4 linked regions of the Homo sapiens genome follow. The protein of the gene in region 1 purifies or fractionates together with the protein of each later gene. This does not show direct contact. Each region holds a gene or a part of one and is shown in the gene's direction. Other genes may lie near its edges.

Evidence for each region.
Region 2: the proteins of SNX4 (region 1) and ABCB10 purify together in Homo sapiens (affinity purification with mass spectrometry; 2 studies listed by BioGRID and IntAct, with this or other methods). This does not show direct contact.
Region 3: the proteins of SNX4 (region 1) and ANKMY2 purify together in Homo sapiens (affinity purification with mass spectrometry; 2 studies listed by BioGRID and IntAct, with this or other methods). This does not show direct contact.
Region 4: the proteins of SNX4 (region 1) and CACYBP purify together in Homo sapiens (affinity purification with mass spectrometry; 2 studies listed by BioGRID and IntAct, with this or other methods). This does not show direct contact.

The regions. Positions count from the first base shown.
Region 1 is NC_000003.12:125,453,833-125,461,570, reverse strand, and holds part of SNX4 (sorting nexin-4), read left to right. Parts: intron 1-710; coding exon 711-800; intron 801-4,205; coding exon 4,206-4,305; intron 4,306-7,615; coding exon 7,616-7,738. UniProt on the Homo sapiens protein: Involved in the regulation of endocytosis and in several stages of intracellular trafficking. Plays a role in recycling endocytosed transferrin receptor and prevent its degradation.
Region 2 is NC_000001.11:229,541,264-229,549,001, reverse strand, and holds part of ABCB10 (ATP-binding cassette sub-family B member 10, mitochondrial), read left to right. Parts: intron 1-1,300; coding exon 1,301-1,503; intron 1,504-6,630; coding exon 6,631-6,765; intron 6,766-7,738.
Region 3 is NC_000007.14:16,600,601-16,608,338, reverse strand, and holds part of ANKMY2 (ankyrin repeat and MYND domain-containing protein 2), read left to right. Parts: intron 1-3,427; exon of another isoform or gene 3,428-3,489; coding exon 3,490-3,618; intron 3,619-5,829; coding exon 5,830-5,959; intron 5,960-7,393; coding exon 7,394-7,578; 3' UTR 7,579-7,738. UniProt on the Homo sapiens protein: May be involved in the trafficking of signaling proteins to the cilia.
Region 4 is NC_000001.11:175,002,728-175,010,465, forward strand, and holds part of CACYBP (calcyclin-binding protein), read left to right. Parts: intron 1-1,886; coding exon 1,887-2,106; intron 2,107-4,017; coding exon 4,018-4,114; intron 4,115-4,370; coding exon 4,371-4,470; intron 4,471-5,881; coding exon 5,882-5,979; intron 5,980-7,195; coding exon 7,196-7,352; 3' UTR 7,353-7,738. UniProt on the Homo sapiens protein: May be involved in calcium-dependent ubiquitination and subsequent proteasomal degradation of target proteins. Probably serves as a molecular bridge in ubiquitin E3 complexes. Participates in the ubiquitin-mediated degradation of beta-catenin (CTNNB1).

The DNA.
Region 1 (7,738 bases):
AACCAAGAACATATGTATACCAATTATACCAAACTCTTATTCTTTCTACAGATTTTGTAGCCCTTTTATGTATGTCTTTGAACAAAAGATATTACAGTCTTACAAGCTTCTTAAACTGCCTATGAAAAAGACCATTTTTTTGTTTGTTTATTTCTAAGTCATTGCTGACCAAAACATTTTGGTAAAATTCAATAAAATCATCATGGTAATTACACATTGCTGTCAGTGATTCTAAACGCTAATTCTCACTGTCTGTACTTACAACATCACTGATGGGTAGCAAATTATCTGTGGGCCACACTTAGAATTGCTGTTTTTTGTTTGTTTGTTTGTCTGTTTGTTTTTGAGACAGAGTCTTGCTGTGTCACCCAGGCTGGAGTGCACTGGTATGATCTTGGCTCACTGCAACCTCCTCCTCCCGGGTTCAAGAGATTCTCCTGCCTCAGCCTCCCAAGTAGCTGGGATTACAGGCACCCGCCCCCACTTCCGGCTAATTTTTGTATTTTTAGTAGAGACAGGGTTTCACCACGTTGGCCAGGCTGGTCTCGAACTCCTGACCTCAAGTGATCTGCCCTTCTTGGCCTCCCAAAGTGCTGGGATTACAGGTGTGAGCCACTGCGCCCAGCCTAATTGCACTTCTCTAGAACCCTAATACTTTGTATTCCAATGAAAGTAACTCTATGCAATGTGTGTTTTTTTTTTTAAAACAGGTATGCATCTTCTATTGATGATATTTTGGAAGATGAAGAACATTATGCAGATCAGTTAAAAGAGTATCTTTTTTATGCAGAAGCATTGCGGTAAGTTTAATAAAAGTTCCAGGTGCAGCCACAGGGTTGTTCACCACTCTCCTCATATGCCACTGTAAAGTACAGATAGTAGAGTGTTTTTTAAATGAATGCATTCCCTCAGATAATGAATGAGGTCTCATTGTATTTCTCTGTGTTGCAGAGTGCTAGGCATAAACATGTAAGATGAGGCCTGCCCTCGAAGCATCATTTTGATAAAACCTGCCAGCCTCAGGCATCAAGTGTGCCTGTATGTTGTTGTTTCCACTTTTTCCAGTTTGAAGATTGGAAGCAAAATACAGATTCAGTGTGTGTAACAGTATCTGTTACTATGTTGTATATTGCTATTTTTATTCTGTGTGTCTTATCAGTAGCTTGTACAACGTCCTTATGTAACAAGGACTTTCTTATCTGTTCTTATGTTATCTTTTACAGAGCCAAAGGGAATTCTCTTTTAGATAGTCCTACGTGACTAGGAAAAAGTTAATATATTTTTTTCTGATCAGTTTAGAAAAAGGAATTATTTTCCCAGAATAGGTGGCTTTTGGTCAGTTGTCCTGTCACTTTTTTTTTTTTTTTTTTTTGAGACAGACTAGAGTTTGGCTGTGTCACCCAGGCTGGAGTGCAGTGGCGTGATCTCGGCTCACTGCAACCTCCACGTCCCGGGTTCAAACTATTCTCCTGCCTCAGCCTCCTGAGTAGCTGGGATTACAGGCGCCCGCCAACACACCCAGCTAATTTTTGTATTTTTAGTAGAGACAGGGTTTCACCGTTGTTGGCCAGGCTGGTCTCAAACTCCTGACCTCGGGTAATCCACCCGCCTCGGCCTCTCAAAGTGCTGGGATTACAGGCATGAGCCAACACTGTCCTGTCGCTTTTAAAAGCAGTATAAGAATTCTGTTAGGAAAACAAGAGCACTATTCCCTTACCTCTGTGGTGATTGGTGTGAAATCATCTGCACATTGTTAGCTCGTTTTCCTTCTAGGGCTTTGAGTAGTAGGAAGTCTCACCAATGTATTTTCAAGTCACCAAGCAAAAGAAAGTTGGCTAGGTGAGGTGGCTCCTGCCTGAATCCCAGCACTTTGGGAGCCCAAGGCGGATGGATCACCTGAGGCCAGGAGTTCGAGACCAGCCTAGCCAACATGGTGAAACCCCGTCTCTACTAAAATTACAAAAAAGTTAGCCAGGCATAGTGGTGGGTGCCTGTAATCCCAGCTGCTGGAGAGGCTGAGGCAGAATAACTGCTTGAACAGGGGAGGTGGAGGTTGCAGTGAGCCGAGATCGCACCATTACACTCCAGCCTGGGTGACAGAGTGAGATTCTGTCTCAAAAAAGAAAGTTGCTGAGTACAGTGGAATTCTCTGCAGCTCTTAAAAATTATAAAAGGGATTAATGTATGTTGACATGGAAAGATGGCCAGGGTGTATAGCCATTTGAGAAAAGATGTAGGAACCATTTGGGGTGCATGGATATGGTATTTGTCAATGCCTAGCTAAATTCTGAAAGATTATATACTATCTGGTAACACCGATTATATCTGGATAGTGGGATTGGAGGAAAGAGAGTGTTCTTGAACTTTCTTGTTGTATTTTGTTTTTTTTATTTTTTTGAGTTGGAGTTTCACTCTGTTGCCCAGACTGGAGTACAGTGGCACAATCTCTGCTCACTGCCACCTCTGCCTCCTGGGTACAAGTGATTCTCCTGCCTCAGCCTCCCAAGCAGCTGGGATTACAGGCATGCACCACCATGCCCGGCTAATTTTTGTATTTTTAGTAGAGATGGGGTTTTACCATGTTGGTCAGGCTGGTCTTGAACTCCTGACCTCAGGTGATCTGCCCACCTCGACCTCCCAAAGTGCTGGGATTACTGGCATGAGCCACCATGCCCAGCCTCTTTTTTTTACTTTGTGCATTGCTGTATTAGAATCTTTTCTTTTCTTTTTTTTTTTTTTTTTTTTTTTTTTTTTTTGAGACGGAGTCTCGCTCTTTCACCCAGGCTGGAGTGCAGTGGCGTGATCTCGGCTCACTGCAGGCTCCGCCCCCCGGGATTCACGCCATTCTCCTGCTTCAGCCTCCCGCGTAGCTGGGAGTACAGGCGCCTGCCACCTCTCCCGGCTTTTTTTGTATTTTTAGTAGAGACGGGGTTTCACCGTGTTAGCCAGGATGGTCTCAATCTCCTGACCTCGTGATCCACCCGCCTCGGCCTCCCAAAGTGCTGGGATTACAGGCATGAGCCACCGCGCCCATCCGAATCTTTTCTTTTTACAGTGAACATGGATTACTTTTATGATCATAAAAACTAATAAACATTTCTAGGCCAGGCGACATGGCTCATGCATATAATCCTAGCACTTTGGGAAACTGAGGTGGATGGATTGCTTGAGCCCATGAGTTTGAGACCAGCCTGGGCAACATGGGCGAGACCCCATCTCTACAAAGCACAAATTAGTTGGATATGGTGGCACATGCCTTAGTCCCAGCTACTTAGGAGGCTGAGGTGGGAGGATTGCCTGAGCCCAGGAGGCAGAGGTTGCATTTAGCCGAGATTGCACCATTGCCCTCCAGCCTGGGTGACAGAGTGAGACCTTGTCTCCAAAAAAAAAAAAAAAAAAATACCTAATAGACATTTCTAAATCACAAAGAAGAAAACTTTGAGGTATTATCTTTTCTAAGAATACTCAGTTGCTATGTGAGATTACAGCATTAGTTCTTACATTATGTAAGAACTAATTATGTATGTAGTTCATTATGTATGTAATTATGTATACATATGTATACATTATGTATGTAGTTCTCACATACATTAAAAAATGTTTTATGTATGTGATAATGGCATGTTTATTGAAAGAAATGTTCCAAGTATATGGAAAACAACTTTTTTTGTGTTAAGAATATATGACGTTTTTGGCCGGGTACAGGTGGCTCATGCCTGTAATCCCAGTACTTTGGGAGGCCGAAGTGGGTGGGTCACCTCAGGTCAGCAGTTTGAGACCAGCCTGGCCAATATGGAGAATTCCCATCTCTACTAAAAATACAAAATTAGCTGGGTGTGGTGGCGCATGCCTGTAATCCCATCTACTAGGGAAGCTGAGGCAGGAGAATCATTTGAACCCGGGAGGCGGAGGTTGCAGTGAGCCGAGATCGCGCCATTGCACTCCAGCCTGGGCAACAAGAGCAAAACTCTGTCTCAAAAAAAAAAAAAAAAAAAAAAGAATATATGAAGTTTTTATGGTTAGGTTCTGCTAGATTCCATTAGATTCCATTTTTAATGTTGGGCTACTACATTTTAAACTTGAAAATTCTGGGCACACACATTCTGCCCTAGCGAGACATTGTGAATGGTTCTCCTCTACCCTTGAAAAAAATGTTTGACATGTTAAAGGAAAAGTTAAATGGCAGCACATTTTTTCATCTGTAGGGCTGTGTGCAGGAAACATGAACTTATGCAGTATGACTTGGAGATGGCTGCTCAGGACTTAGCATCCAAGAAGCAGCAGTGTGAGGAACTGGTAACTGGGGTGAGTATTTTCCTTTTGGCCTCTGATGATACTGTAGCAACACGGAATGTTCCTCACAAGCACTCACTCTGAGTGAGTAACTCACTCCTGTAGAATCAGTTCCAGTTACAATACTCAGGACGGCTGAACCTTTTACAGGGGAATAATTTGTGAGTAACTTTATAATTCTTTTATTATTATCTTGATACAAAATGATGTAAGCCATTAAAACCATGTACTGTATAGAATTATAAGAAATTTTGCCAACATTTCTCTGGTGTAATCAGTATCATCCGGTTTCGTTTTAAAAAAAAAAAAAATTATTGGGCTGGGCACGGTGGCTCACACCTGTAATCCCAGCACTTTGGGAGGCCAAGGCCAGTGGATCACCTGAGGTCAGGAGTTCGAGATTAGCCTGGCCAACATGGTGAAACCCGATCTCTACTAGAAATACAAAAATTAGCCAGGTGTGGTGCCTCACGCCTGTAGTCCCAGCTACTCGGGAAGGTGAGGCAGAAGAATTGCTTGAACCAGGGAATCGGAGGTTGCAGTGACCCGAGGTCACGCCACTGCACTCCAGCCTGGGTGACAGAGCAAGACTCCATCTCAAAAAAATTGTTTTTATTAATTTTTATTTTTTGAGACAAGGTCTGGTTCTGTTTCCCAGGCTGGAGTGCAGTGGTATGATCAGGGCTCATGGAAGCCTCAAACTCCTGGGATCAAGTGGTCTTCCTGCCTCAGCCTCTTGAGTAGTTGGGACCACAGGCATGTGCCCCCATGCCTGGCTAATTTTGTTTATAGTCTCATCATGTTGACCAGGGTGGTCTCAAACTCCTGGACTCAAGTGATCCTCCCACCTCCGCCTCCCAAAGTGCTAGGATTACAGGGGTAAGCCACCATGCCTAGTCTATCATCTGGTTTCTAAGTCCAAGTGAAAAAACATGCAGTGACCTTTATCAGGTTTAACTTTGCAAGGTACTTTGCAGAAATTTTAGTTGACTTTGAAAAGCCTTACCCACTTAGAACCAGTGCATCTCGCCTAACAGGGAGCTTTTGATGTACTTTATTCTTTAATGCTTACAGTGAGTACTTGTGAGGAAAATTCTGTACCTGATTGCATTAGTCTTGGATCATTTTTATAATCAGCTTTCTACTCCAGTTATTTCATTGCAATAAATCAGCCATCATGGTGAGCAACACACATTCTGAAAGTAGTAAACCAGCAGCAATGTCTCTACTTAGTTAATAAGCACTGTAGTTTTTGTTTGTTTGTTTGTTTGTTTTTAGACCGAGTTTCGCTCTGTTGCCCAGGTTAGAGTGTGGCTCACTGCAAGCTCCACCTCCTGGGTTCACACCATTCTCCTGCCTCAGCCTCCTGAATAGCTGGGACTACAGGCGCCTGCCACCACGCCCGACCAATTTTTTTTTTGCACTTTTAGTACAGACGGGGTTTCACCATGTTAGCCAAGATGGTCTGAATCTCCTGACCTCGTGATCCGCCCGCCTCGGCCACCCAAAGTGCTGGGATTATAGGCATGAGCCAGCGCGCCTGGCCAAGCACTATAGTTTTAAAAGTGCTTTTCACAGAGATTACCCACTGGCTACATCTGTGAAAAGTCACAGATATATGTGGGGAAAGACTTGTGACCAGGACACATGTATAAACTAGGCCCTTGGTTTATTTTTAAAACTCAGTGGGAGAAGTTCCCAGGCCATTTTCAGGGAGCTTGGTTCTCTATCCTACATGTCAAGGGAAAAGTGTTTTCTTCAGTAAACTCCAGAGAGTGAGGAAATGTTAAAGCAGTGAAGCTTGGGGTTGCCTTCCCATGCTTGGATTTAGGTATCCTGTTTTATTAATAGATGCCCAAGTTTGAGCGTTGAGTTATGCAGATTTTAAATATGCTTCTTTAGTTTGGTTTATTTCCATAGTTGCCTAGTGAATTTATCGACTTTTTTTATAACATAAAGTAATTTTTAAAATATCATTCATACAGAGTAAGAAATAACGTCTAATATTTCACGTGGAAGTTTTCCATTTGATTATGAAATTCAAGCCGGGTATGGTAGCTTACAATGGCAATCCCGACACCTTTAGCAGCAGAGGCGTAAACCCAGAATTGCTTGAGCCCAGGAATTTGAGACCAGTGTGGATTAATATAGCTAGACCCTGTCTTTACCAAAAATTTAAAAATTAGCTGGGTGTGGTGGCATGCACCTGTGGTCCCAGCCACTTGGGAGGCAGAGGTGGGAGGATCACTTGAGCCCAGGAGGTTGAGGCTGCAGTGAGCCATGATTGTGCCATTACATTCTAGCCTGGGCAACAGAGCAAGACCCCATTTCAAAAAAAAAAAGAAATTCAGTTAGAAGTGTCTTCTTTTTGACTACTCCATATTATTTCAGTGTTAGAAATTCTATTAGGATTCTTGGCTATGACTCTGTAAAAATAAATAAAAACTCATATAAGAGATCCCTGGTTGTGAAGCTTATGGTGGTTTTGTCTGACTTAGGGGAAATATGGCAAATGTTTTCTATTTCCTTTGTGTGTGTAGTGAAATATATATAACATAAAATGTACCATCTTGTCCATTTTTAAGTATATAGTTCAGTAGTGCAGTCATCCCTCAGTATCTTCAGTGAGATTGGTTTAAGGATCCCTGGGATACCAAAATCCTCAGATGCTTAAGTCCCTTCTATAAAATGGTGTAGTATTTGCATGTAACCTGTGCATATCCTTTTGTATACTTTAAATCAGCAGTCGCCAACCTTTTTGGCACTAGGGACCTGTTTTGTGGAAGACAGTTTTTCCATGGACCAGGGCAGGGGGTGCTGAGGATGATTTCGGGATGAAACTGTTTCATTTCAGATCATCTCAGGCATTAGATTTTCACAAGGAACACACAACCTGGATCCCTCACATGCGCAGTTCACAATAGGGTTCGTGCTCCTAAGAGAATCTAATGCCTCTGCTGCTGATCTGACAGGAGGCAGAGCTCAGGTGGTCGCTTGCCTCCTGCTATGCAGCCTGGTTCCAAACAGGCCATGGACTGGTATCACTCCGTGGCTCTGGGGTTGGGGACCCCCTGCTTTAAATTATCTCTAGATTATTAATACCTAATACAGTGTAAACACTGGTGTCTCATATAAGTGGAATCATACAGTATTTGTCTTTTTGTATCTGTCTTATTTCACTTAGCATAATGTCCTGCAGGTTTATCCATGTTGTAGCATATATCAGATTTGATTCCTTTTAAAGGCTGAATAATGTTCCATTGTATGTGTATGTGTATGCCGCATTTTGTTTATCCATTCATCTGTTTCTGTTTCCTTTTAGACTGTGAGAACATTCTCTTTGAAGGGAATGACTACCAAGCTCTTTGGTCAAGAAACTCCAGAGCAGAGAGAAGCCAGAATAAAGGTGCTAGAAGAACAAATAAATGAAGGAGAACAACAGCTA
Region 2 (7,738 bases), on another chromosome or scaffold:
ATCATGTCGGTCTTATGGGAGGTTTGAAAATAAGCCCCTCGGGCTGGGTGCCGTGGCTCATGCCTGTAATCCCAGCACTTTGGGAGGCTGAGGCAGGTGGATCATGAGGTCAGGAGTTCGAGACCAGCCTGGCCAACATGGTGAAACCCCGTCTCTACTAGAAATACAAAAATTACCCGGGCGTGGTGGTGTGTGCCTGTAATCTCAGCTACTCAGGAGGCTGAGGCAGGAGAATCGCTTGAACCTGGGAGGCAGAGGTTGCAGTGAGCCCAGATCATACCACTGCACTCCAGCATGGGGGACAGAGCGAGACTCCATCTCAAAAAAAAAAAAAAGAAAAAAAAAGAAAATGAGGCCCCTGGCCATGAAGCTGGACTTCTGAGGCTTCCTGAAGGCTTCAGAAACCCATTTACATGCCCCATGCTTGTGTTTCTCCTTAAGTAGCAGCTGGGATGATAACTTTGTTAGTATTTCTCTGAAGAGGTCTTGTTTTTACAGGCAGGTCACTGCCACAATAATGAGAGAACCTGGGACACCAACTCGAAGTCTGTTGCTCTCCATTTATCTCTGTGGATAATTAACCAATTCTTGCCATTTGAAGGTTCAATACAGGAAAGGGTTTCCAGGGAGGAACAAAATGAGCTTTTGGAAGTTAATGTAATAAAACTTCTTTGTAAATAATACCTTAAAAAAATCTCGGCCAAGTGTGGTGGCTCATGCCTGTAATCCTAGCACTTTGGGAGGCTGAGGCAGGAGGATTGCTTGAGCCCATGAGTTTGAGACCAGCCTGAGCTACATAGCAAGACTCCGTCTATATAAAAAATAAAAATAAGTTAGCTGGGTGTAGTGGCGGACATCTGTAGTTTCAGCTACCCAGGAGGCTGAGGTGGGAGGATGGCTTGAGCCCACAAGGTTGAGGTTACAGTGAACTGTGATCGTGCCACTTCATTCAGGCCTGGGTGATAGAGCAAGACCCAGTCTCTTAAAAAAAAAAAAAAAGTAAAAATAAAAAAGGCCTCTGAGTCATGTTATATTTATTTTATTCCTGTATCCTCTCACTAGCGCCCACAGTCTGTAGTTAATAAGAGAAAAGTAGTGTTAGTAGTGCATGACAGTTAATGTGCCTGGTTTGGGAAAGTCTCTTTCCACCCATGGGATACAGTGCAGCAGACACGCTCAGAGGCTGCATTGCTCAGGAGGGTTACAACTCCAGGCCAAGCTGCTGCACAGTAAGTGGCTGCCCCATAATGGTAATGGATGTCTTTACCCTTGGTGAGCCTGTTCGTGTTTGCTTTTGCAGGTCAGCGCATTGTGAATAGGCTGAGAACTTCATTATTCTCCTCCATTCTGAGGCAGGAGGTTGCTTTCTTTGACAAGACTCGCACAGGAGAATTGATTAACCGCCTCTCATCAGACACTGCACTCCTGGGGCGCTCAGTGACTGAAAACCTCTCAGATGGGCTCAGGGCCGGGGCCCAGGCTTCCGTAGGCATCAGTATGATGGTATGTGGGCCTGGTTCCCCTTGGTACCTTCCTGCCAGGGCTTGGCTTGCACCAGGCCTCTCACGTGTGAGACGAGCTCAAGCTGAGCGGTTCGCATCATTCTGTAAGTGCCTAGAGCCAAAAGTGCTGTTGCAGAAGCTGCTGGAACGTGGGGATTGCCTCTGCCTGCATGGCCTCTTGTACCTTCATTTCTCCAGAATGAGTGATTATCTGGAAAATGGACTCATGTGTTACTGCTGGGTATTCTGAGATGTGTGTACCCGGGGTATTAAGGCAGAAAAGAGCATCAGGTAGAAGGAGCACTGGGTACTACCCTGTGGGTGGCACCAAGCGGTGACTAAATTCCATTCCTCTGTGTGTGTAAGTCGAACTGTGCTCTTTTAAGGGGAGAGCTCTTCACTCCCATGGCCTTTTTTCCTTTCCTTAACTGGGTGGCTTGTGCCTGTCCTGTCTGCTTGCCTTACCTCTTCAACCAGTATTTCTATTCAGCCCAGTGCTGCAGGTCATTGGAGAGGCAATGCAAGCCACATATGTGATTTTAATGTTTTAGTAGCCACATTTAAAAAAGCAAAAAGAAGCCAATGAGATTAATTTTTTTTTTAATTTTAATTTTTTTAGAGACAGTCTCACTCTGTTACCCAGGCTGGAGTACAGTGGCAAGATCATAGCTCACTGCAGTCTTAAACTCCTGGGCTCAAGTGATTCTCCCACCTCAGTCTCCCAAGTATCTGGGACTACAGGCACACACCACCAAGTCTGGCTAATTTAAAGAATATATATATATATTTTTTGTAGAGGCAGGGTCTCTCTATGTTGCCCAGGCTGGTCTCAAACTCTTGGCCTCAAGTGATCCTCCTGCCTCGGCCTCCTGAAGTGCTGGGATTACAGGCTTGAGCCACTGTACCTGGCTGAGATTAATTTTAATAATGTTTTGTTTAAGCCAGTATAAACAAAATATTGTCATCTCAAGATGTAATTAATATCAAAATTATTAATGAGGTATTTTATATTATTTCTTTCATATTATAGTTGACCCTTGAACAATGCAGGGGTTGGGACACTGAAGCCCACACAGTCAAAAATCAAAGTATAACTTTTGACTCCCTAAAAACTCAACTACTAATAGCCTACTGTTGACCAGAAGCCTTACTGATAACATTAACAGTCAATTACCATGTATTTGGTATATGTATTATATACTATGTTCTTATAACAGAGTAAGCTAGAAAAAAGAAATGGTATTAAGAAAATCATAAGGAAGGTAAAATATATTTATTATTTATTAAGTGGAAGTGGATCATCATAAAAGCTTTTTTTTTTTTTTTTTGAGACGGAGTATCGCACTGTCATCCGGGCTGAAGTGCAATGGCACGATCTTGGCTCACTGCAACCTCCTCCTCCCGGGTTCAAGTGATTCTCCTGCCTCAGCCTCCCGAGTAGCTGGGATTATAGGTGCCAGCCACCACGCCTCGCTAATTTTTTTGTATTTTTAGTAGAGATGGGGTTTCACTATGTTGGCCAGGCTGGTCTTGAACTCCTGACCTCGTGATCTGCCTGCCTCAGCCTCCCAAAGTGTTGGGATTGCTGGCGTGAGCCACTGCGCCCGGCTCATCACAAAAGTATTTATCCTCATTGTCTTCACACTGAGTAGACTGAGAGGAGGAAGAAAGGTTGTTCTTGCTGTCTCAGGGGTGGCAGAGATGGAAGAAAATCTATGTATAAGTTGACCCATGCATTTCAGACCAATGTTGTTCAAAGGTCAACTGAATTTCCAAATCTGGTGTGTATTCTCTACTTAAGGAACATCTTAATTCGGATGCTAAATTTTCATTGAAAGTACTTGATCTATATTTAGATTTTATAAAATGTACAATTGAAAAAGTAGTTTGACATACTCAAGTTTTCCAGACATACTTAATAGTTTGCCAATAACTGAATGGAGTATAGGCTTTTAAATTTTAATTAAACCTAAATACAATTAAAAAGTCAATGTCTCAGTCATACCTGCCACATTTCAAGTTTCCAGTAGGGCTATCGTTTTGGGCAGTGCAGTTCTAGACTCGTGGAATAAGAACTGTAAATAATCCTTTCTCACAAGTGGAAAAGCTTGGATTCTGTCCTTTGTGTCCCATGAAGCACTTAGAGAGGAAGGGTGTGTTGCCTATTAGATCTGACTTACGGAATGAAAAACAGCTTTGAAATCTCATGATTTTCCAGCTAAGAGAGAAGCAAACCTCTGGAAGAGGACCCTTCCTGCACTAACATGCCGTTTTCCAAATATGAATAGTTTTGGGGATCAGGAAGAGTTCAAGCTGGGAAAAATCACTTGGGGTACTTTTTGTAACAAGGAAAGGGAATTCAGTGTAGGTCAGATGAGCAATTCAAAGGGGTCTGTTTGGGATGCCATAATAATACCACAGACTGGGTGGCTGAAACAACAGAAATGTATTTCTCACAATTCTGGAGGTTAGAAGTCCAGGGTCAAGGTGCTAGCAAAATAGTTTCATTCTGAGGCCTTTTCTTGTGGCTTGGCTGAAACAACAGAAATGTATTTCTCACAATTCTGGAGGTTAGAAGTCCAGGGTCAAGGTGCTAGCAAAATAGCTTCATTCTGAGGCCTTTTCTCTTGGCTGGTAGGCAGCTGCCATCTTGCCATGTGCTCACATAGTGGAGAGAGAGTGTGCTCTAGTGTCTCTTATAAGGACACTAATCCTATTGGATCATGGCCCCACACTTAACGACCTCATTTAACCTTAGTTACTTTCTTAGAGGCCCCATCTCCAAATACAGCCATGGTGGGGATTAAGGCTTCAACATGTGAATTTCAGGGGGAATTTCCATTCAGTCTGTAAAAGGGCCTCAGGAAGTGGCTTCACCTAGGATCTGATCTTTGGCTCTAGGGGATCAGAAATGTGACTTTGTTTCTCCTGCACAAACTCATGGACCTGACATAGGGGAAGTCCAGTTATGAGAACCTGATATTGTGTATGGCATACTGCCAATTTATTAATTTACATAGTGGGCCTACCCACCATTAAGTTGTGTTTCTGCTATTCCTTTTTTTTTTTTTTTTTTTTTTTTTGAGAGAAGGTCTCACCCTGTTGCCTAGGCTGTAGTGCAGTGGTGTCATCTTGGCTCACTGCAACCTCTGCCTCCCGAGCTCGAGTGATCCTCCCACGTCAGCCTCCTGAGTAGCTGGAACCACAGGCGTGCGCCACCATGCCCGGCTAATTTTTGTATTTTTTATAGAGACAGTGTCTCACCATGTTGCCCAGCCCACTGGTTTTGAACTCCTGGGCTCAAGCGATCCGCCTGCCTCAGCCTCCCGAAATGCTAGGATTACAGACGTGAGCCACTATGCCTAGCCCATTTCTGCTATTCAAAACACTTCATTATGGTGCCAGCACCCTGTATTAGTCATCAGAAGGTTTTTCATTAAGTGTGGAACCAGAGTGAAGGGAGGGGGGTGGTTCTGGACAGTTCTAGGAGAATCTTGATGGACTGTGCCTGCCCTACACAGAGGACACCTGTCCAGTTGGTTCATTTTGACATCAGTTGTGTTCAGGCCCCAGAAGTGTTAGACCTGCCCTGTTGGTCTCATGTCCTGATGGTGACCATCAGAGATATGATTATGTTCCCCAAGACTCACCCCAGGTGTCCTGATGGACTTGTCTTCTCAGGGTGGGACATTCCTATGCACATCTGCTTGCTCCTCTGTGAAGGTGCCAACCTCCTTTCTGCCTCAGGGCCTTTATGCAATGGCTCTTCCCTCTTGGGGGAGAGGTCTTCCAAGATTGTGTTACATCTGCAGTGATACTTTCTCTTTCTTTTACTTGTTTATTATCTAAGTCTCACCTCTTCTTTCTTGCATGAAAACTCTGTGAGGGTTGGTTATCTCCCAGGTGCCTGGAATAGTGCTTGCACTCAGTAACGTGGGCTCTCAGTAATAACTTGTTGAATGAGTAAATGAATGAGTGAATGATTGGTTGATCCATCCACTTATGTTTCAGTTTGCAGTTTTTCCTTAGTATTATTTAGCCGTGTACTGATTATACTATTTTCTGTGCAAATGAGATATGGTAGATTTTAGTAATTTGTCGAAGAGATGCCAGTACTATTGAAAGTACAATCACCAAATTGCAATGTTGACAGGAAAACCCTCTGTTACTTACTTCCAGAAGTTAGGTTATTCTTTCAGCAATTCCAATTGCTAGAAGCTCCTCAGTATATTGAGCCCAGATCCATCCTGCTGACTTCAGTCCACTGAGCCATAAAAGCAGCTCTAATTCTTCTTCGACTTGTTAGTTGTGTCCTCCAAGTCCTCTGTTGACTGTTATGCAATGTGCTGTTTTTTTTTTTTTTTTTTTTGAGATGGAGTTTTGCTCTTGTTGCCCAGGCGGAGTGCAGTGGCTCAATCTTGGCTCACTGCAACCTCCACCTCCCGGGTTCAAGCGATTCTCCTTCCTCAGCCTCCCGAGTAGCTGGGATTACAGGCACGTGCCCCAACACCCAGCTAATTTTTGTATTTTTAGTAGAGATGGGGTTTCACCACGTTGGTCAGGCTGGTCTCGAACTCCTGACCTCAGGTGATCTGCCCGCCTCGGCCTCCCAAAGTACTGAGATTACAGGCGTGAGCCACCACACCCCACCCGATAATGGGGTTTTTTGGTGACTTCACCATCTTGGTCATTTTGATGGGACGTGTTGCTGTGGTTGTTCAGTGCCTGCAGGTGGTTCAGACCTGAATATACAACTCCTGAGGTGGACTGGAGCGTGGAGCAGAATGGGCCTCTGCCAAACCCCCATCCTGTCTCTTCCCACTCTGTTGTTAAACCGCGTGGTCTGATCTAGTATTGGCCTGAGGATTCTTTCTTCAGCAATTTCTTGTCACATTTCTTCTATGTGGCATGCTGAATATTTATGGGGTTTTGTGAAGAATAAAGATGTCTGAAAAATTCCATCAAAACAGGATGTAACAACTTGGGGACAGTACCTTCAAGCCTGCTGTTAATTTAAACACACACACACACAGACACACCCACACACACACTCCCCTTTCGTAGGTAATGAGAATGTCTTGCCACCCAATGTAACAAACACCTCTGAATTTTTTTTTGTTTTTGACAGTTTTTTGTCTCACCTAATCTGGCCACCTTTGTTTTGAGCGTGGTGCCTCCAGTGTCAATCATTGCTGTAATTTATGGGCGATATCTACGGAAACTGACCAAAGTCACTCAGGATTCCCTGGCACAAGCCACTCAGGTAAAGGCCCCTTCCTGTCCGCGTGGTTTCCAGCAGAATGGGGTCATAGCCAGGATCCTAGAGGGCAGATCCTAAGGGATGTACTTAGGTTTTTCAATGAAGTGCCTGCCTTTCCTTTCATTAGAAATTACCCCAAGATCCATGAAACTTAAACTACTCTGTTTTCTAGACTAGATTTCTACCCATATCTCAAAGTAGATCTAACTTCACTAAACATTTTATGGAGTCCTCACTTGTTACTATCACTATTTCTTTTCTTTCTTTTTTTTTTTGTTTTTTTTTTTTGAGACAAGGTACATGAGAAAAGTTTTTTCATGCACTCTAGGCTGGAGCGCAGTGGTACAATCACAGCTTAGTGAAGCTTTAACCTCCCAGGCTCGAGTGATCTCCCACCTCAGCCTCCTTAGTAGCTGGGACTATCGCCCCATGCCACCATGCCCACTAATTTTTAAAATTTTTTGTAGAGACATGATCTTACTGTGTTGCCCAGGCTGGTTTCAAATTCCTGGGCTCAAGTAATCCTCCCACCTTGGCGTCCCGGAGTGCTGGGATTACAGGCATGAACCACCATACCTAGCCACTATCACTATTTGTTATAGGACAAAACAGTTAATCAGGTTTTGAAAATAGTTACTAGATAAGTGTTTCATTAATTTAATAAATCTAGCTTTGCAGTGCTGTGCAACGTTATCTTTTCAAAAATTAAAAATGGCCAGGTGCGGTGGCTCATGCCTATAATCCCAGCACATTGGGAGGCCAAGGCAGGTGGATCACCTGAGGTCAGGAGTTTGAGACCAGCCTGGCCAACATGGTGAAACCTTGTTTCTACTAAAAATAGAAAAATTAGCTGGGCGTGCTGGTTTGTGCCTGTAATCCCAGCTACTTGAGAGGCCGAGACAGGAGAATCGCTTGAACCTGGGAGGTGGAGGTTGCAGTAAGCCGAGATTGCGCCATTGCACTCCAGCCTGGGTGA
Region 3 (7,738 bases), on another chromosome or scaffold:
TACTTTTTAATATAGTTGGCTATTTAGTGTTTATGCTTTTGGAAGAATAAAGTTAGCAAATTATGATTTGTCAATTACAAATGTGTCTTGGCAGCACATATCAAAGCCCAACCAACCATGAATTAAATAGATGAGGGTTTATGTATTCACATATACATAGATGCCCAAAGGTAGGCAGACTAGGTCTGGCATAGTGACTTAAAAATAGTTTGGGGACCCAAACACTTTCTCATCTTTCCCTTCCAATATTCCTTAGCTGTGTAGGTTCTCATATGCATACTTATGATCTCATGGTTACGAGGCATTTGATGTTCCTCCTCCAGCTCACATTCCTATCCCAGGCAGGCAGGAAGAGCAAAGGGGTCTATATCTGGAAAACATAAGCTCTCCCAGAAGCCCTCTGCCTGTGTCACATGACTTTCCTTAGCTACACAGGAGTCCAGGAAAATTTTTTTTTTTGGCTTTTCTAAACACTCCTCCTCTGAACAAAATTACACTTCTGTTACTGAGGAAGCTGGGAGAATTGATATCAGAGAAGCAACTAGCAGTACCTGTTATGTGGGATTTCCAGCACTCACAAATGGTTGCTGACCTTTTACCTTCCTGGGAAAAAACAGAAAAACTAAAACAGCAACCCAGAGTTCTTTAAAAAAAAAAAAAAAAAAAAAAAGCAGGTCAATATTGTGGTCAACAAGTTATCCTAGCTCCATATAATAGAATAATGTAATTAGAGTTTATAGAGTATAATTATTATTATTTTTATTTATTTATTGAGGGGGGTCTTGTTTTGTTACCCAGGCTGGAGTGCAGTGGCGCAATCTCAGCTCATTACAACCTCAGTCTTCCGGGTTCAAGCGATTCTCATGTCTCAGCCTCCCGAGTAGCTGGGACTACAGGCACACACCACCATGCCCGACTAATGTTTCTGCATTTTTAGTAAAGACGGGTTTTCACCATGTTGGCCAGGCTGATCTTGAACTCCTGACCTCAAGTGATCTGCCCGCCTTGGCCTCCCAAAGTGCTGAGATTACAGGCGTGAGCCACCGTACCCGGCCTAGAGTATAATGATTAATGTTTATCCCAGTGATCTGAGTCATCAAGAAAAGGTTTATAATAAAGTTAAGATAGTATTTAATGCATTTTAGAAAGACTTTTCTTTAAACATTTTTGTTCTTTGAGAGTTTTATGTTCTTCTGTCTGGAAGACTTCATCCCAAATGCCTGTGATTGTGCGTATCACAGCCATTGTTTACTGCCTAATTGGTTTTCATATTCTGCAAGTTCTAACCCTCTGAAGTGATGCCCAACCTTTTCCCCGCATACGATGGTTCTCAGGGCTGGCTGCTGTGAGCTTCACTGTGTTGTTTTCTGACAGTGCTAATGCCTGGGCCCTCCTGCTCAGCTTTTGGTTCCCTCTGCTGCTGTGGAACTCTGGCTTCTGCCTGTCTCAAGGCTCAGCACAAAAGAGAATTCGTAGCACTTTCATGTGAAAGCAGACCCAGTCATTATTATTTGTATTCAAGAAGAACATGGTAGTTTCAAAATGAGTGCTACTTTTAAAATACTTCTTGAATCTTTGAATATTTTCTTTGACTATCTTGAGTATACAGAACAGTGTAGGACATTGTTACCAGGTGATATTTTTAAACCTCTATTATGTACAGTTGGTAAGATAATATAAAAACAAATATTCTTAGGAAGAAAAAGCAAATACTCAAATGAAAATGAAAATTATAAAGAGTGTCAAAATGCTGGTTTGGAACAAATGAACAAATTTGAAAAACTCAGAACAAAGAACTATTAGGAGTAGGTAAGAAAAATAGAAACGCTGTGATTATTTTTTGCTAAATAGGTTTTAGTAGCATCGTCTCAGACAGATAAATGCTTACCCTTATAATTTTTTTTTTTTTAAATACAAGGTCTTGCACTGTCACCAAGGCTGGAGTGTAGTGACACGATCTCGGCTTACTGCAACCTCTGCCTCCCGGACTCAGGTGATCCTTCTGCCTCAGCCTCCCAAGTAGCTGGGACTACAGGCGTGCCACCATGCCTGGCTAATTTTTGTATTTTCAGTAGAGTCGGGGCTTCACCAAGTTGGTCAGGCTGCTCTCAAACTCCTAACCTCAAATGATCTGCCTGCCTTGGCCTCGCACAGTACTGGGATTACAGGCGCTAGCCACCACACCCAGCCCCTTATAATTTTCTTTGTAAAAAAAGTTTATAGGCCAGGCGCGGTGGCTCATGCCTGTAGTCCCAGCACTTTGGGAAGCCAAGGCGGGCGAACCACGAGGTCAGGAGTTTGAGACCAGCCTGGCCAACATGGTGAAATCCTGTCTCTACTAAAATTACAAAATATTGGCCAGGTGTGGTGGCTCACACCTGTAATCCCAGCACTTTGGGAGGCCAAGGCAGGCAGATCACAAGGTCAGGAGATCAAGACCATCCTGGCTGACACGGTGAAACCCCATCTCTACTAAAAATACAAAAAAATTAGCCGGGCGTGGTGGCGGGTGCCTGTAGTCCCAGCTAGTTGGGAGGCTGAGGCAGGAGAATGGCATGAAGCCAGGAAGCAAAGCTTGCAGTGAGCAGAGATCACACCACTGCACTCTAGCCTGGGCGACAGAGCGAGGCTCCGTCTCAAAAAAAAAAAAAAAAAAAAAAAAAAGTACAAAAAATTAGCTGGGCGTAGTGGCGGGCGCCTGCAATCCCAGCTACTGAGGAGGCTGAGGCAGGAGAATTGCTTGAACCTGGGAGGCGGAGGTTGCAGTGAGCCAAGATCGAGCCACTGCACCTCCAGCCGGGTGACAGAGACTCCATCTCAAAAAAATAAAAATAGATAAAAATTATAAATATTTTTTAACCTATTTTAATTTTCCATTGCCCACTAGTAGTAAGTTTCACACATTTGGTTTTTCTTAATACTTTGATTCAATTGCTGCATGTGTGTTTCTTAACAAATTTGGAACATACCAATTATAATGGTGATAATTTATTTGAATTACAAGCCAACATCAAGTAAATGAGTTTAAATATATTGTCTTTAAAATACTTAGATTGTACTAAACTTTTCAGAATTAAGACAGTTAAACATTTTTGATGTGCCCTATAATTGTCTCATGGAATATGAATATTTTCTGGATGTCAGTTCTCAGAAAAAAATTCTGCTCTGGAGTTATTGTCCTAAATCTGAAACGCTATGGGCTTACTGAATTATCCTTATTGGAAAAATACTTTTTTTCTAGATTAAGGGTGTTTTTTTCTCTTTAATTATCTGGACATATGACTGACTTTTCATATGTTTTGTACAGAAAATGGTATATTCTAAAAGATTTTTGTCATTTTGTCTTAAAGCCTGTGTAATCTATAGCCTTAATGATTTCTTCCTTTTTGTGTCACATTGTAGGACGGCAGTGTCCGTGGGCTGATACCTCTGTAGTGTTTCCATGGTGATTTCAGAATTTGTTTTTTCTCCTCTTCATGCCCACTCTAGGGTTCTGATCCCACTGCATTCTCCGTCCTTACCCAAGCCATCACTGGCCAGGTGGGTTTTGTGGATGTGGAATTTTGCACTACCTGTGGAGAAAAGGGAGCAAGTAAAAGATGTTCAGTTTGCAAAATGGTAAGAATGGAGTTCTTTTTATTTCATTGACCTCTGGTTTAGATGCAGCCAAGCTGATGATTGAGTTTTAATATTCTGTAAGAGTGGACATTAGTTTTCTAATAAATTCTAGTAACGAAAATATTCTATTTAATACTTAAAAAGTAGTTTTGGAAAAGAATTAATAGGATCAATATAGTTCTTTACTGTGTCTGTCTTCTGCTAAACTGCCAGTCTTCCTTTGCCTCTTTGCTGATCACCTCATGGAAAGAAAGGATATGAATGAATGAATATGAGAAAATAAGAGAAAGGTTTTCCGTGGGGCACGAGACCAAGGCTGGTGCAGATGTGAAACCTAGAATAGGACAGTTCATAAATATACATTCTTTACTCTTCTGATGTTGACTTTAATGACAGTGTCTTCATCAACATATCCTTGTAAAACTATAGTTTCTGACTGTTACCAGTCTTTAATCCCTATGGACTGTACTGCCCCCTTCTGCCAGAATTATCTTTGTAAAAGGCATATCTGATTGTGTTGTTCTCATATCCAGATACTGGACACATGCATGTGTCCGTACATTCACTTAATCCCATAGGTAGCATCAACTGCCTGTTGACTTTAAGGTTGAAATTCTCCAGCATGTTGTATGAAACCCATTATAATCTGCTGTGACCTACTTCTTCAGCTTCATCTTGTTTAATGACTTACTTCTCTGAACCTGTTTCCTGAATTAAATGAAATTCCAGAATTAAATCAAACTATTTATATTGGTTAATTATTACTGCTTATAAAAACACACTCAAACTCAGTGCTTAAAATGATAATCATTTAGTCTTTCTCTCACAGTTGTGGTTGGCTGTTCTCAGCTGGGGCAGTTGTGCTCCATGTGACTCTCATCCTTCTTGTACTAGCAGGCTAGGCTGAGCATGTTGTCATGGCAATAGCAAAGGTACACATGGGCAGGTAGAAACACAGAAGACCTCTCAAGGACTAGCCTTGAAATTGCCATGTTGTTTCATGCTGTTGGTTGAAACAAATTACATGGCCCAATCTGAAGTCAAGTCTCCTCCCCTTCAGTGCAGAGAACTTTGAAATCATGTGAGAAAGTGTATGAATGCAAGGATGAATGAAGAATTGGGGCCAATAATACAATATATGTATAAGGGCCTACCACAGTGCTTGGCATACAGTAAGTGTTTAATAACATTCATTCCCATCTCCTTTCCACCCCTACTTGCAAAAATATAAGGCCATTTACAAAAACTTCTTGCTGTTCTTGAACATATCATTCACTTCCCTGTTCCTGCATTTTTGTACTAGATATTTTCTCCAGTTAGAATTCTTCTTTCCCATTTTTCTGTCTACCTCGACTCACCACAGCTAGAGTGAGTTGCTGCTTCCTCTATGCCTCCATCACTCTTACATCCTGTACTGTGTTAAGAAATTATGTATTTAGGTGCCTGCCTCTCTCCCTTCTTCCATATCTTTCTTTTTCTTGATGCTAGCTACCTTTGGGACAACTCTATCTTCCTTGTCATTGTACTGTACCAATTCTGGCACATAGCGGGTTCATAATAAGCTATTTGCTAAAGTCTTTGGTAGACTGTTTGTTATATATTCATTATTGTTTTAAAGTAAAGCTACAAACTATAAATCTAAATCAATACAAAGATACTGTGTTAGGCCGTTCTTACGTTGCTATAAAGAAATACTTGAGACTGGGTCATTTATAAAGAAAAGAGGTTTAATGGGCTCACGGTTCTGAAGGTATACAGGAAGCATGGCATGGGCATCTGCTCAGCTTCTGGTGAGGTCTCAGGAAGCCTTCAATTATGGTGGAAGGTGAAGGGGGAGCAGGCATGTCACATGGCAGGAGCTGGAGCAAGAGGAGGTGGGGGAGTTGCCACATACTTTTGAACAACCAGATCTTGTAAGAACTCACTCAGTATTGTGAGGACAGCACCAAGGGAAGGGTGCTAAACTGTTCATGAGAAAACCGCCCCCATGATCCTATCACCTCCCACTAGGCCCCACCTCCAACATTTGGGATCACAATTCAGTATGAGATTTAGAGGGGACAACATCCAAACTATATCAACCACATATTATGGTTTTAAAATAAAGTATGGAAAATGACATTTTTATAGCTTAGTTCTTGGTTTAGTCATAGTTAGGAAATCATACAACCCAAGCTCTGGAAATGAAAATAAACCAACAATTGCTTTCAGGTAATATATTGTGATCAAACCTGCCAGAAAACACACTGGTTTACTCATAAGAAAATCTGTAAGAATCTGAAGGACATTTACGAAAAGCAACAGTTGGAGGCTGCCAAAGAAAAGAGACAAGAGGAAAACCGTATGTATATAAAAACCGAGTTCACTCTGCTTTTTAGTGGAGAGAGAGATGATAGGTGATCTTAACACACTGAAACTGCGTCTTCTCTGGAAGCCATAGGAGCTCAGGAGTGACCGATGTAAGAATCACATTTAAATTTTAATGTGTCCCGTTTTTAAGTTCTTAGGATATAGTCAGCCTGGACATCACTGGAAAACAGAGACATCAAATTCTGAGGGATGTAGCTTATTTCATATTTTACATTCTAGCTTAGGTTACTGCCCTGGAACAATGGGACCCTTAATGGGTATTAACTTATATTCTGCTCATGAAGGATTTTAAAGTCTTTGAATAAGGGAATTAATTAAATTTCCACTAATGGCTACCAGAAGATTTTAAGGGTGGAAGCCTTTAAATTCCTTAATTAAATTTCAGAACTACAGGTGAAATTACAGAGTATATTTATAAATCATTCATTAAATTGCAGATCTAATATACAGATCAAATTTCTACAAGTGTCATAGCAGTGAATTTTGTATTTTTTTTTCTCCATCCCTCTTGAGGTTTTGTGACCCATTTTCATCAGAAATAGTGAGTTGCTTCAGCAGTGATTATCAGATTGGAGAGGAGAACTGCCCCCACCCTCATGCCTCATTCCAGAGAATGTATCATATGTTCTGGGGGAGTGCATGTAATTTGAAAAAGATGCCTCGGTTATTCTGATACCAGGCATTTCTGCCTCCATCTCTCAAGGAACCATATCCGCTTTACTACTGGGTTGAGATATACTCTCAGTGGAATTAAATGGTTTGTACACAATTAAACCATTTATCCTTAAGAGAATAGTCAGGCTTTCTGACTGCCATGCCTTCTCTTGTTTTCTTGACCAAACTTTTTTATTCTATGTGCTAAGGACAGAAAGTAACAAATGTTCATTACTAACACACTATTGAGGGAGAATAAGATTGTCAGTAGAATGGGCACTCCCAGTTGTTAAGCATCATTCATGCACCAAACACTGCTCTAAATGTTACAGACAACTTTATTCTTCACCAATGTAGGATAGCCTTTATTACCTGCATATTATAGACAAGGGAAACAACTTCATGCAGGCAATTACCTCTCCAAGGACATCAAATAAATTCACAGAAAAGCTGTATTCAAATACAGGCTTTGTCAAATCCCAAGCAACAATCTTGATTTAGAGATGGCTTTGGAGCCAGCGGCCTGAGTTCAAATGCTGGTTCTGCTGTTTCACTAGCCAGGAAACTTGCAGCAAGCTACCAAACCTCTCTCTTCTCAGTTTTCTCATTTGTAAAATAACGTTAGCGATGACAGTAGAGATACTAATATACCTCATGTAGTTGATAGGAAGATTAAATAATACATGTAAAGCATTGAGAAGAGTGTCTGACACATGGTAGGAACAAAATAACTTCTTCTTTTTTTAATCAGACGGCAAACTTGATGTCAATTCTAACTGTGTTAATGAAGAGCAACCAGAGGCTGAAGTAGGTATCTCTCAAAAGGATTCCAATCCTGAAGATTCCGGGGAAGGAAAGAAAGAATCTCTTGAAAGCGAAGCTGAGTTGGAAGGCTTACAGGATGCTCCTGCAGGGCCACAGGTGTCTGAGGAGTAAAAGCCAGAGCAAGTGCCAGTGTGGATGATCCTCACCCTGCAAGAAGCTGGAAAACTCCTAGGAATGCATTGTCCTCACCTTGTTATACCTGCGTGGCACCATGGCAGGATTCCACATTTCATAGAATACAGGTTTTCAAGCAAACCCCTGTTGACCATGC
Region 4 (7,738 bases), on another chromosome or scaffold:
GTTTTTTCAGTGGATACTTCATAATAAAAAGAGTACTTTAGAGTCAAAACTGGCAATAAAGAGGGCTTGGGAATTCAGCCATTGGGGGAATCCCTTGCCTAATTCGAAGTACCTTTCTCATTCTGCTAGATAAAGTATTCCTATTTCAGTCAAAAAGCAAAACCTCTTGCTTAGACTTAATATATTTCATTTTACATTTCAATATTTTTATTATGAATTAGGAGTTGTAGAATCAGCGTTTTTTTGAAACCATTACAATAAAAATATTACTTTGAACTGAAACATTTTGGTTCTATGCTCAAAAGATGAGTTTGCAAGATTTTTTGTCATAGTAATATGAGCTGTTCTTGGAAGGGTCGAGAGTGTGGACAAGAGGGTTGGGCAGAGTTGATTTTTTTTTTTTTTTGGGAGACCGAGTTTTGCTCTTGTTGCCCGGGCTGGAGTGCAATGGCGCGATCTCGGGTCACTGCAACCTTTGCCTCCCGGGTTCAAGCGATTCTTCTGCCTCAGCTTCCCGAGTAGCTGGGATTACAGGCACGTGCCACCACACCCGGCAAATTTTTGAATTTTAAGTAGAGACGGGCTTTCGCCGTGTTGGTCATGTTGGTCTCGAACCCCTAACCTCAAGTGATCCACCCGCTTTGGCCTCCCAAAGTACTGGGATTACAGGTGTGAGCCACTGCACCTGGCCAGAGTTGAACTTTTTATACCATGTCATCTGTTATAGATAGGCAAAACTAGGGCATCTGAGTTAAATGAGATAACAAAAGACTTGTAGTAAAAGAAAAGAATTAGTTCTGTTATTGCATTTTATAAGACTATTAAGAAACAGGCTTTCAAACTCTGTTGTGCGTCTGATATTCTGAGTTATAAAGCACTAAAAGACTTTTTTAAATTGAGCTTTTGATATCAAGCTGTGACACAAGATTTTTTTGGTCAAGTTGGTAGTGTCAAGCCAGAGTGTAAAGTTATTGTAAGAAAAGTGAAACAGCTGTTTGGAAAGATCTTGTGTATTTGCAGTATGTCAGAGGGTAATTGGGGGAAAAAAAACTTAGGCTCAATAATTTTCTAACATTGTCTTTAACTCTTGAATTTCATAAAATGTTGCCTCTATCTCTAGAAAGTAGAAAGTAGTAGACTTTAATAGATGATGGATTGGCAAGAGAAGAAAATGAGAACGTGGTGGCTTTTTCAAAAGATAATTTCCAAGAGTATGTTGCATTTTCGGTCTTTTGTCACCTTCTGTGCAACCAACTCCTACACTTCTGAGTGTAAGACTGACCCAGCTTCAGAGCAAGACTTTTCCTCAAAAGCAGAAATTTTTTTTTTTATCTTTTGTCTTAAAAATTAAGACTTTTTTTATGTGAGGTATTTGAGGTGGGAAGATAATGAAGACCAATCAGTGACAGAAAGTGGAGCATTCATTACCTCAGTTAAGTTTGCTATAAAAGCATTTTACCATGGTCACTGCATGTTCTCTCATCTCTTAAATATTTTAAAAGTGTCTAACATCTAATGACACTCGGATTAGATGTTACAAGGAAATCTATGAATCCTTTGTCAAAAAAAAGTTCTTTGTTTTACTTTTTAGGTCGCAGACGTTTCTTGTAAATATTTTAAAACATAAACTGGAAAATTTAGGTTTGAAGACCTATTTATTGTTTGTTCAAGATTGTTCAAAGTTTTCCTTTTGAAAAAAAGGAAGCTTGAGTTAATTACAGTTAATAAGCCAGATGGAAGAATTGAAGTTGCAACTCAATCCTAGAAAATTTAGATGAACTTCTTAATTCTTAGTGCTTATTTCAGTAAGTTGAAATGAGTGATACGCACAATATCAAGCCATTTCCTTATTTATCATAGCTAACTTATTTTTTGTCTTAACACAGCTACAGAAAGATCTAGAAGAGGTAAAGGTGTTGCTGGAAAAGGCTACTAGGAAAAGAGTACGTGATGCCCTTACAGCTGAAAAATCCAAGATTGAGACAGAAATCAAGAACAAGATGCAACAGAAATCACAGAAGAAAGCAGAACTTCTTGATAATGAAAAACCAGCTGCTGTGGTTGCTCCCATTACAACGGGCTATACGGTGAAAATCAGTAATTATGGTATGACTTGCTTCCCTATAGCCAGTTCTGCCTCCGAGCAACCTATTCCTCATAGTGGTCTAACAAATTCATCCCCAATGAGTTTTGAGTCTGTGTTTTTGGTGGTTTGGAGCAAGACCCATCAGTTTTTATTTAATAAAACTTTTTTAAGATATAAATAGGAAAGGATGCGTTCTAGAAGCTGTTAACAAGAGTAAGGTGATTCACTACAAAATGTAACAACAAGGAAGGAACTTATTCTGAAATTGTTCAGTATAAGACACAGCTTTGGTGGTGGTGGTGGTGGTGGTGGTTTTTAATCATGTTTTATGTTTCACTCTGCCAACCACCACAATTAACTGAGGAGAGGAATCCAGTTAAATTCAGGAAATATTTTTGAGCACCTAATGTGTATCACTATTGTGCTTTGACTTACGGATACACAACAGTGACTAAGACCCAGTCCTTGCTCATGTTGTGGTTGGGACATTGACGTATAACTCGTAGTATAACAATGTAGTAATACTGTTTTCCTTCAATGGTGTATACAGTTTTTTGTTTTGGCGGCAGCGCAACTTGAATATGAATGATGAGCTCTCATTGGAGCAAGGACAGTCTTGTTTTTCTTTGTGCTAATAATGTCTAGCACATAATAGGTAACATAGCTGAAGAAATAATTCTGGAGGTGAGGAACAGGGAGAATTAGAGAGATTTGAGTGTGAAGGGTGAGTCGTACATTCAGCAAGTCAAAAAGGAGGGGAACAGCATGAGCAGAGAATGTGAATAGAGAGTTGGAAGGCATGATCTATTTTGAATATTGTTAATAGTGAAAAGCATGTGTATGTCGTGCTTAAGAGATGTACTATATAGTAATATAGGAAATTGCACCGTGTACTCAGTTGAGTATAGGAAACTGGTCTGAAGGTGTTGAGGATTATGGTATTTTAACCAGGAACATAGATTTGTGTTGAGGGAGAAACTTGTCAATCCGGAGGATGGACTGACTGAATGGGAAGAAACTATTAATAAATGAAGTTCTCTGGACCCCACTAGGGCATTTTTTCATCAACACTGTTTCTTTTTAATTTTCGAGGGTACATAGTAGGTGTATATATTTATGGGGTACATGAGATGTTTGATATAGGCATGCAATGTGAAAAACGTCATGGAGGATGGGGCATGTTTCTATTCTATAGGACTAAGTGAGCAATAGTCAGGGATATGTATGTATATATTCTTGATAAACAGAAGATGCTTTTTTGTGAAGTTTTTTATTTTCTACAAATGTGATGGTATTTTGTGAAGTATTTATATATATGTCTTTTATGTTGACAGAGTTCTTCTAGGTCAGAGACGTGCTGGTAGTTTGATAATACATACTGAAATGGCATTTAACAGATACCAGTAGGTTTGTCAGATTTGGATGAAGAATTGGAGTCTTTTACATTCTACTTTGCCCTGGAAAGGAATTAAGAGAGCTAGGATTCCATTTGTTTGACTACTTACAGAAGTAGAAATGGTTATGGAATTAGTATTGATACTTAGCCATCCAGCTTAGTGGAGAACTACCAATATTTAGATGTCGGACAAAATTGTTTCCATAAAAGCTGTAAATGAACTAATCTTAAAGAATGTATTTAGTGATCATATTTTTATTCTGAGGGATAAAAAGAGCATAGGTTTTGTATTCAGAAACCTGGATTTGAATCTGAATTCTACCACTTGTTAGATGCCTAGCTTTGGGTAGAGTACTTAACTGCTTTGAGGCTCCATTTCTCAACCTAGAAAATTTCTTATATTTCAAATTTTTTCATGTTTATATGACTGGATTTTCATAATTTTACTTTCCTGACTTATGAGCCATGTGCATTTGCTGTTCTAAAGATAGTTTCAGAGGCTTACTTACGTCCCATCTTTTGTTGTCGTTGCCAGGATGGGATCAGTCAGATAAGTTTGTGAAAATCTACATTACCTTAACTGGAGTTCATCAAGTTCCCACTGAGAATGTGCAGGTGCATTTCACAGAGAGGTGAGTTCTCATTATAATGGGAAAGACAGTGAATTAACAGTCAACATTGCCTTATCTTGAGACTCTCTTCTTTGCAGTTTTTAAAATTCTTAAATTTAGAATTAATTATCCTTTACAACTACTTTGAAGAGGTGAGCGTTAACTGGCCAAATGCACACCCTGAAATAAAGCCAGCAGCTTTTTTCCCACAAGAACTATGGAGTAAGGGTACCTTTCATAGAACTAGAAAGATGATGTATTCACCATTGTGTTGCAGGTCATTTGATCTTTTGGTAAAGAATCTAAATGGGAAGAGTTACTCCATGATTGTGAACAATCTCTTGAAACCCATCTCTGTGGAAGGCAGTTCAAAAAAAGTGAGTGTGCTTTTTTTGATTGTAATATTGTGAAACCTTACCAAATTGAACCTGGCTGATTTAGAACTGAGATGAACTGGAATGAATTTGTCCTCTGTAACAGGGACCACCGCCTGTTTTGTGAATGTTTTATTGGGACATAGCCAGGCTTATTTGTTCATGTGTTGTTTGTGGATGCTTTTGTGCTACAATGGCAGAGTTAAGTGGCTACAGCAGACCATATGGCCCTAAATGAAACCTAAAATATTTACTATGCGGCCCTCGACAGAGAACATTTGCCAACTCCTTTTGTAGAATAGGCTATTGTAAGAATATTCCATTAAAATCAGGGAGGAAGTAAACGTTTGAAGGTAGTTAAGAGTGAGACTTGAGTTTTATGCCAGGTTTACAGCTTATTGTTTGTGACCTTTGGCAGCTTAATCACTCTGTGCCTCAGTTTCTGCATTTATGCGATAGTAATAATTTATTTCACAAAGTTGAAATGATACACTGAAGTGCAATACCATTATGTAAAGTGCTTAAATTAATGCTAGTGTTAGCATTGTGCATAATACTCGTATACATAAAAGGAGGTCTTAAGCACTTAGCCTCCTTGGAGTTAGAAGCAGCTATAAAAATAAGGAAACTGTCTTTTAAAAACTACTCTTTGTAATTTTTACTAAATCAGATAGTCCCTGTTTTCTGCCTAATGTGAATAAATGAAGTTTAATGCGTTAGGTATATAGACATGACATTCTGCCATCTGTTTTTATAATACATAATTACTTAACAGCTTACAGGTGATACTCAAATATAGTTGGATTCGCTGTCTTACTGCACCCTTCTGCATCCGCTAGTCCCATAGGTAGAGTACCAAAAGATCCCTAGTATTGATCATTGTTTAAAAGACCTGTACATTGCCCTTCTTTCTCACTTTCAAATGCCTCACCTTGCCCCATACTGCCTTATACGACTTGGTTTCTTGCCTATCCCCGACCCCTCTTATTATATTACTGTCTTTTTCAGTCACTAAAATCCAGCCACTCCTCCTGCTCCTCAAACACACCAAGATGATCCCATCTTGGAGCCATTCTGCATGCTCTGCCAACTGCCTTCTCCTGACCTTAGGCTTCGGCTCAGATTTGCCTCAGAGAGGCCTTCCTAATGAAGTTCCTGCCCCCACCCCCCATTAACACCCGCTTTGTCTTGATAGCACTTTCCAGGATATCAGGGTATTCAAGTTTTACTTATTTATGGTCTTTTCACACCATGAATGTTCAGATTTTGGCCTATTCATACAAGTATTACTGGCACCCAAAATAAGTCTATACATACTAGGGACTTGATCAATTGAATAGATAATTGTTTTATAAATATTCATGCTTATCTCCATGTCTTCTAAGCTGTATTTGTTTTCCTGCTTTTCTTCCAGGTCAAGACTGATACAGTTCTTATATTGTGTAGAAAGAAAGTGGAAAACACAAGGTGGGATTACCTGACCCAGGTTGAAAAGGAGTGCAAAGAAAAAGAGTGAGTCTACTTCCATTTTTTTAAAGAATTTTAGTGTATTGTTTGAGATCATGGATTTTTAATAGTTTGTCTTTATGGATAATGTATTTCTGCTTTCAACTGTCAAACTACCTGAAGAGGGCACGTCCAGCAAGTTGCTTTTTAAGGTCTTTGTAGTTAAGGGTTGGCTCTTTAGTGTGGTTCTTAACCCTAGGCGCAGTTGTGCTTCTATACAAATAACTGTGCCCATTCCCAGATACTCTGTTTCGGTAGTTTGAGAGGGGCTTAGGTACCCCTGTATGTTTTAAATTTCTCAGATGCTTCTGATGCGTAGTTTTCATTGTCACTGGTTTATAGTGAAAAAGATAAAATATTTTTATCCTTCTTAATAATGACCTTTTAAAAATGTGTATTCAATGATACTTGCGTTCTAGGTCAGTTCATCTTCTAAAGGTACTGACTAAATTAATTCAAGACCCAGGCCCAGATCTGTGTATCTCAGGCTTAAGAGGAGAGTTTTTCTAATTAAAAAATACATGAGCTTCAGGGTACATCCATGTGTAATGTTTATGATTTTCCCTCAAGTGTTTTTTTTCAAATTATGAGGAAACATGCTTTTAAAAAATGAAAACAAGTTAGAAAATCAAATTCTTATTTTACCTGTCAAAAATCACAGGAGGCCAGGTGGGGTGGCTCACGCCTGTAATCCTAGCACTTTGGGAGGCTGAGGCGGGCGGATCACCTGAGGTCAGGAGTTTGAGACCAGCCTGGCCAACATGGTGAAACTCTGTCTCTACTAAAAATACAAAAATTAGCCGGGCATGGTGGCATGTGCCTGTAATCCCAGCTACTCGGGAGGCTGAGGCAGACAGAATTGTTTGAACCTGGGAGGCGGAGGTTGCAGTGAACCGAGATGCGCCACTGCACTCCAGCCTGGGCAACAGAGCAGGACTGTCTCAAAAAAAAAAAAAAAAAAAAAATCATGGGAAATCCCTGTGCCTAAAAATAGCCCCTAACTATTTTGATGACCTCTTTCGTGCACCAAGTGTGTGCATGCTTGATACGTGTGTGTTGTTTTCATTAAGATGAATTTGTGCGTGCCGTTTTGATTGTAAATATCTTTGGGTACTCTGTCTTCCTTCTTATCCCTCTACTTCCTGCCAGTGTTAACAACCTGAATGATAGTATCTTCCGGTGCTTTCGTTTCCCCATTGTTGTATATGTTTTCTTTTTAAAGGAAGCCCTCCTATGACACTGAAACAGATCCTAGTGAGGGATTGATGAATGTTCTAAAGAAAATTTATGAAGATGGAGACGATGATATGAAGCGAACCATTAATAAAGCCTGGGTGGAATCAAGAGAGAAGCAAGCCAAAGGAGACACGGAATTTTGAGACTTTAAAGTCGTTTTGGGAACTGTGATGTGATGTGGAAATACTGATGTTTCCAGTAAGGGAATATTGGTGAGCTGCATATATAAATTTGACAGATAGCTATTTACATAGCCTTCTAAGTAAAGGCAATGAATTCTCCATTTCCTACTGGAGGATTTATTTAAATAAAATATGCTTATTAAACACTCCTGCAAAGATGGTTTTATTAGTACCCTGGTCATTTTGTTCAAGGAAGGGTTATATTGCATTCTCACGTGAAATATAAAAAGCAAGTCTTGCCCAATAAAAACGCTACATTGTGTGTATTTTTTGTTCAGCTAAGAATTGGAAAAGTATTTGCTTGCCTTTTAAGTTACTGACATCAGCTTCCACCAGTGTAAAAATTG